Homo sapiens: one gene and its partner. The protein of the gene in region 1 purifies or fractionates together with the protein of each later gene. This does not show direct contact. Each region holds a gene or a part of one and is shown on either strand. Other genes may lie near its edges.

What was found.
Region 2: the proteins of THAP8 (region 1) and CYRIB purify together in Homo sapiens (affinity purification with mass spectrometry; one large-scale study listed by BioGRID and IntAct). This does not show direct contact.

The regions. Positions count from the first base shown.
Region 1 is NC_000019.10:36,040,655-36,044,303, reverse strand, and holds part of THAP8 (THAP domain-containing protein 8), read left to right. Parts: intron 1-3,649.
Region 2 is NC_000008.11:130,006,545-130,010,193, forward strand, and holds part of CYRIB (CYFIP-related Rac1 interactor B), read right to left. Parts: intron 1,910-3,649; exon of another isoform or gene 1,790-1,909; intron 1-1,789. UniProt on the Homo sapiens protein: Negatively regulates RAC1 signaling and RAC1-driven cytoskeletal remodeling. Regulates chemotaxis, cell migration and epithelial polarization by controlling the polarity, plasticity, duration and extent of protrusions.

The sequences.
Region 1 (3,649 bases):
AAGTAATATCACAGATATGGAAAACATTGTGAAGATGGGATATGCATGAGATGTGTCTTAGTTATCTAATGCTATATAACAAACTATCCCCAAATTTAGCAGCTTGAAATAAACATTTACAGTCTCAGTTTCTGGCAGCTGCTAAGGACAAACTGGCCAGCATTTGATCATGTGGCCACCCCTGGCTGCAAATAAGGCTGGAAAAGGAGGTCTTTATTATGGGTAGCCTTGAGCCCAGGTCTAAATAGAGAGTGGATTACCATCTAAGAGGGTAAGAGCAGATGCTGGGAATAAGTGGCACCCGGAAACCGGAGAAGTGGGGCACATTTAGAGGGTCCCTCATCAGATAATCCTCACCCACAACCACTGAGAAAGCTTTTATTTTTTAAAACTTAAAACAAAAAAAATTTTTTTTTGAGATGGAGTCTTGCTCTGTCGCCCAGGTTGTAGTGCAGTGGCGTGATCTCGACTCACTGCAACTTCCACCTCCCAGGTTCAAGTAATTCTTCTGCCTCAGCCTCCCGAGTAGCTGGGATTACAGGGACACGCCACCAGGCCTGGCTAATTTTTGTAATTTTCGTAGAGACGGGGTTTCACCATGTTGGCCAGGCTGGTCTTGAACTTGAATTCAAAATCACTTGAGGTCTGACTGCAAGTGATCCGCCCACCTCGGCCTCCCAAAGTGCTGGGATTACAGGCGTGAGCCACCGTGCCTGGCCTATTAAAATTATTTTTACCTGTGGCAAAATACACATAAAATCTACCATTTTGATCATTTTTAAGTGTACAATTTTGATCATTAAGTGTACAATTCACTAATGTTAAGTGTTGTATAACCAATCTCCAGAACTTTTTCCTCTCCTAAAACACTCTATCCCCATTGGACAATTCCCTCTTTCCCTCTCCCCCAGGCTCTTGGCAACCACCATTCCACTGTCTGTCTCTAGGAATTTGACTGTTCTACCTCATATAAGTGAAATCGTCAGTATTTGACTGGCTTATTTCACTTACCCTAATGGCCCTCAGAGTTCATCTGTGTTGTTGCATGTGTCAGATCAAGACTAAATAAAATTCCAGGCCAGATGCAGTGGCTCACACCTGTAATCCCAGCACTTTGGGAGGCCGAGGTGGGTGGATCACCTGAGGTCAGGAGTTTGACACCAGCCTGGCCAACATGGTGAAACCCCATCTCTACTAAAAATACAAAAATAGCCAGGTGCAGTGGCAGGCACCTGTAATCCCAGCTACTTGGGAAGCTGAGGCGGGAGAGTCGCTTGAACCCAGGGGGCGGAGGTTGCAGTGAGCCGAGATCACACCACTGCATTCCATCCTGGGCAACAGAGTGAGACTCCATCGCAAAAATAAATAAATAAGCCGGGCATGGTGGCGGGAGCCTGTAATCCCAGCTACCCAGGAGGCTGAGGCAGGAGAATCACTTGAACCCAGGAGGCAGAGATTGCAGTGTGCCGAGATTGCGCCATGGCACTCCAGCCTGGGTGACAGAGTGAGACTGCATCTCCTCCCTCCCCCCAAAAAAAAGACTAAATAAAATAAAATTCCATTGTATGTATATGCAGCATTTTTCTTATCCATGTATCTGTTGATAGACACTTCCACCTTTTGGCTGTTGTGATTTATGCTGCTATGTTTCTGTTGTCTGTTTGTTTGTTTTTGAGACAGCATGTCGCTCTTTTGCCCAGGCTAGAGTGCAGTAATGTGATCATGGCTCACTGTAGCCTTAACCTCCTGGGCTCAAGCAGTCCTCCCACCTCAGCCTCCTGAGTAGCTGTGCCTCTAGGCACATGCCACCATATCTGGCTAATTTTTCTATTTTTTGTAGAGACAAGATTTCACCTGTTGCTCAGGTTGGTCTTGAACACCTGGGCTCAAGTGACCCACCCACCTCAGCCTCCCAAAGTGCTGGGATTACAGGCATGAGCCACCACGCCAGGCCTGATTTATGTTGCTACGAACGCAGGTGTGCAAATATCTCTCCAAGACCCTGTTTTGTGTTCTTTTGGGTATGTAAGCAGAAGTGGATTGCTGGGTCATATGGTAATTCTATTTTTCAGTGTTTGAGGAACTGCCATATTGTTTTCCACAGTGGCAGCACCGTTTTACATTCCCAGCAGTGTACCAGAGTTCCAGCAGTTTTTCCACATCCTCACACACACTGTTCTTCTCTTCCTCTTCCTCCCCCTCTTACTCCCTCCCCCTTCCCCTTCCCCTCCTCCTCCATCACCCAGGCTGGAATGCAGTAGTGTGATCATAGCTCACTGCAGCGTTCAAATTCCTGAGCTTAAGCAATCCTCCCACATTGCCTCCTAAGTAGATAGAACTATAGATGCACATTGCCACACCCAGCTAATTTAAAAAATATTTTTTCGTAGAGACAAGGTCTTGCTACATTGCCCAGGATGGTCTTGGACTACTGCCTTCAGGAGATCCTCCTGCCTCAGCCTCCCAAAGTGCTGGGATTACAGACACAAGCCACCATGCCCGGCCTCTTTTTTGTTGTTGTTCAATAGTAGCTGTTCTGGTGTTTGTCAGATGATATTTCATCAGGGTTCTGATACTGCGTTTTCCTAATGATTGGAGATGTCAAGTATCTTTTCATGTGCTTATTGGCCATTTGTATGTCTTTGGAGAAATGTTTGTTCAAGTCCTTTGCCCATTTTTGAATCAGGTTATTTGTGTTTTATTGTTGTTGAGTTGTTTAAAGACTTGTTAGTGGGTGTTTTCAAGCATACACAAAAAGTAGAGCCCTCAGTATCCATCACTGTGTCACTAGTTATCAACACTTTGCCAATCTTCTTCCCTGCCCTGCCCACACCTCTAAGTTTTTGTCCTGCACTATTTTAAAGTAAATCCCAGACATCAGATCTTTTATCCGTAATTATTTCAGACTGATTTCTAACAGAAGACTGTTTCAGAAGTATAAACCAATACAGTTATCACACCTAGCAAAATGAATTTTTTTTTTTTTTTTTTAAAGACAGGGTCTGGCTCTGTCACCCAGGCTGGAGTACAGTTGCGCAATCTCGGCTCACTGCAACCTCTGCCTCCCAGGCTCAGGTGACCCTCCCACTTCAGCCTCCCGAGTAGCTGGGACTACAGGCATGTACCACCATACATGGCTAATTTTTTTTTTTTTTTGTAGAGTCGAGGTCTCCCTATGTTGCCCAGGCTGGTCTCGAACTCCTGGGCTCAAGCGATCCTCCCACCTTGTCGTCTTCCCAAAGTGCTAGGATTACAGGCATGAACCGCCATGCCTGACCAGTTTCTTACAATTATCTTATAACCAGTTCATGTTCAGTTTTCCCCAATTGTCTTAAAATGTCTTTTTACTGAATTGTTTGTTGTAGGCAAGGTCCACATCCTGCGTTTGTGCTGATGTTTCTTAAATCTCTCTTAATCCAGAAACCCCACACCCCCATTTATATGGTGTGGAAGAAACGTTTTCGCTTGGCTGCACGATCTCCCACATCGTAACTGTCTGATTTTATAAACTGCTCCAACAAGTTGATGTGGAAGAACAAATTGGGAGTGGAGGGGCGGGACTGTGGGCAGGAAGACCAGGAAGGAGGCTGGAAGGAGGGGCAGTGGAGGGGGCAGAGGTGGGCTGATGCTGGGTGTTTAAAAGGTGGAG
Region 2 (3,649 bases), on another chromosome or scaffold:
GATCAGCCTGGCCAACATGGTAAAACCCCGTCTCTACTAAAAACACAAATTATATATATATACATATATATGTGTATATATATACATATATATGTGTATATATATACATATATATATGTATATATATATGTATATATATACACACATATATCTGGAACCTCCCACCCAGGAAGTGTAAGCACACCCAAGGTATGAGCAGATTAAAGAAATCCTGCAGAAGGGGGAACACATGCATAGAGTATGCTGGCAAGGTCACATATAGAAAATGGGTGGGGGGACTTGAAAGCAGAGGTATAAATCCTATGTGCACCTTATTTGCTCAAGTCTACATGGACCAGCATCCAAACATTGAAATTTTCCTTTCAAATTCAATCCCCCAGAGTGTATGGTCTCAGGACCCTTCTTTCCCCCAAATCTTTTCTAGTGGGGATGCATGTATGCAGACAATGCAAAGTGCTACAAATCGCAACACCAAATGCATCAAGAGGTAGATTATTAGTATGAGTCAGTTTCACACTAACTTTACCAAAAACCTCACTGCTCACATTAGCTCAAGTAATCTACTTACAACCACAATTATAAATTCTGAGCTTCCTTGGCTGACGAGTTTGCAGTAGGTGGTTCTTGGCCCTGAGGGCTGCTGAGATGCCCGCCGTTATGAGATGCCCACTGAGAAAACCACCGCCCTCTCCCAGCAGGGTCCAGCAGGAGCAGTGTCTGCTCTCGGCTACACAACTCCATTCATAGACTTTTCCAGTTACGTTTGAGGTTCACCCAAAGGAGGTAGTAAAAACAGGAGGTGGGCACTGAAGCTGGCCTGGTATGTTTGAATTCCAGCTCTGCTTTTTATCAGCCTCCAGGTTTTCTCAGTTTCCTCATCTGTAAAACGGGAATAATATTACCTGCCTCACAGAGTTACCATGAAAGTAAGAAATAAAATATTCAAAGTATATGACATGGCTGGGCGCAGTGGCTCACGCCTGTAATCCCAGCACTTTGGGAGGCCGAGGCAGGTGGATCGCCTGAGGTCAGGAGTTCGAGACCAGCCTGCCCAACATGGTGAAACCCTGTCGCTACTAAAAATACAACATTAGCTGGGCGTGGTGGCACAGGCCTATAATCCCAGCTACTTTGGAGGCTAAGGCAGGAGAATTGCTTGAACCTGGGAGACGGAGGTTGCGCTGAGCCGAGATTGCACCATTGCACTCCAGCCTGGGCAACAAGAGCGAAACTCCATCTCCAAAAACAGCAACAACAACAAAGTACAGGACACTTGCTCCATGCTCCATAAAAGAAAGTTAATATTGCCATAAAGGAGACCAAAAAAATCACAGAAACCCACGACGTGATCCTGATGGGAGCCCTGTTAAGAGGGGCTTCCAGGCCAGGCATGGTGGCTCACGCCTGTAATCCCAGCACTTTAGGAGGCCGAGGCGGCCAGATCATCTGAGGTCAGGTGTTCAAGACTGGCCTGTCCAACATGGTGAAACTCCATCTCTACTAAAAGTACAAAAATTAGCCAGGTATGGTTGCGGGCGCCTGTAGTCCCAGCTACTCGGGAGGCTGAGGCAGGAGAATTGCTTGAACCCGGGAGGTGGAGGTTGCAGTGAGCCGAGATCGTGCCACTGCACTCCAGCCTGGGTGACAGAGCGAGACTCTGTCTCTAAATAAATAAATAAATAGAGGGGCTTTCTGCCAGGTCCATAGCTGCCTGCACACATAGTCCAGAAATGTGACCTCACTCCCTAGCTCCTGCTCCACTCGCCACCATCAACCTGCTGGCCTGTCATTCATGGTGTCTGGTGACTCTCCCTGCCATCCCATTCCAAACCCCTCAGAAAAGCTTATCCAATTCCTGAGTGAAAAGAATGGGCCTAGAAGGGCTGAGTTTAAGTTAACCCAAAGAAATAAACCCAAACTCCTTCATTCTCCAAGCTGTTCAGGCCTCAGGGACATGTGTGGGGTGACTGTGGGGCACACACTATCATTCCCCATGTGGATCCATCACGGGGCCTAGCACACAGGAGGTGCACACTCAGTGACTGTTCTGTTGTTGAATGGCAGGATGAATCTCACTCCTCCCTCAAGACCTGAAAACTTGAGAGTTATGAAGGCATGTTTAGGAATGACTGTAAAATACCACTTTTCAGAAAACACAGAAATCTCCATTTGATTCTTTCATTTGCAAGCCTGTTTGATCTGTCTACACACTGGTTGGTCTCTCGTGTCCCAGAAGCAGAGGGCAAGACACAAAACCAGAGTTCAGGGGAGCAAAGCAGACATTTTAGGAAGTTATTGCCCAAGTTTCACTTCCACGTCGTCTTCTGCATTCTACTTCAACTCTGGTTTTGAGCAAAGCTGGGGCTGGTGAAGAAACTTCCCTTAGTCTACATGTTCCTCTCCCTGAGTCCCAGCACTGAGGCTCTGTAGACCAGGGACTCAAATTACTGAGCACTCACTGATGCTAGACCCTATGTCAGGCATATTCAGACATCTTCTGACCTAAGAGCCACAACAAGCTGGAAAACAGACACTGAGATGCCAAGAGAGGTTATGCAATGTGCAAAAGACTTCACAGTCAGGGAGTCGGGTCTGAATCAAAGATCTCCTTGGCTCCAAGGTCCTTGCTTCTCAACCTGCCACTGTCCTTTTTCAAAGGCGCCAACCACTAACATGGCAAAGTGTTTCATTTTTCATAAAGCCATCTGAGGAGTTCAAAAGCATCTTTTTTTTTTTTTTTGAGACAGAGTTTCCCTCTTGTCACCCAGGCTGGAGTGCAATGGCACAATTTTGGCTCATTGCAACCTCTGCCTCCCAGGTTCAAGCAATTCTCCTGCCTCAGCCTCCCGAGTAGCTGGGATTACAGGTGCCAGCCAACACGCCCAGCTAATTTTTGTATTTTTAGTAGAAACAGGGTTTCACCATGTTGGCCAGGCTGGTCTTGAACTCCTGACCTCAGGTGATCCACCCGCCTCGGCCTTCCAAAGTGCTGGGATTACAGGTGTGAGCCACTGCGCCCGGCCCAAAAGCATCATGAAAAACTGTCCCCCTGCATTAAATTCAGATCCCATCTCTGCCAGAAGGATAGCCCTGGACAAATCATACAGCTCTCACCCACCTGTGACTATGCCCCATGGGAGAAGGACGTGTATATGGAGGCTTTCTGCTAGACTATGCTAGATGCTTTGATACACATTATCCCACTCAATCCTCCAAACATTCCAGGGAAGCAGGTGATAGTAGCCCAGCTTCATCAATGACAATTCTGGTTCTGCAGTGGGATGTGATTTGCCCAAGGTCATGCAGCGCTGAGAAGCAGGCCCAGGGCTCCATCAGCCCTGCCATGCAATAGGCTTTGTTGAGTGAGCACTGGATGTAAATTCCAAAGAGCTTAAAGCGGCCAGACAGAGCCAGTGACAGGAGACTCTATTAGGCAGATGAGGAAAGAATGGAGCTTTTCTTCCTCCTACCGCCCAAGCCTTTCCCATCCTTAACTCCTCTGCACAACGGGGCCCTCACTGTCCTTCCCCCACCTTCTTATCAAAGGATGCTGGTGCTGGGAGGGGGAAAAGACAGAAAGAGGATTAGTCTCTGGCATGGTTTATGTTGATTTCAAAGCTGTCACTTTTCCCACATTGGGCCTTCTTTT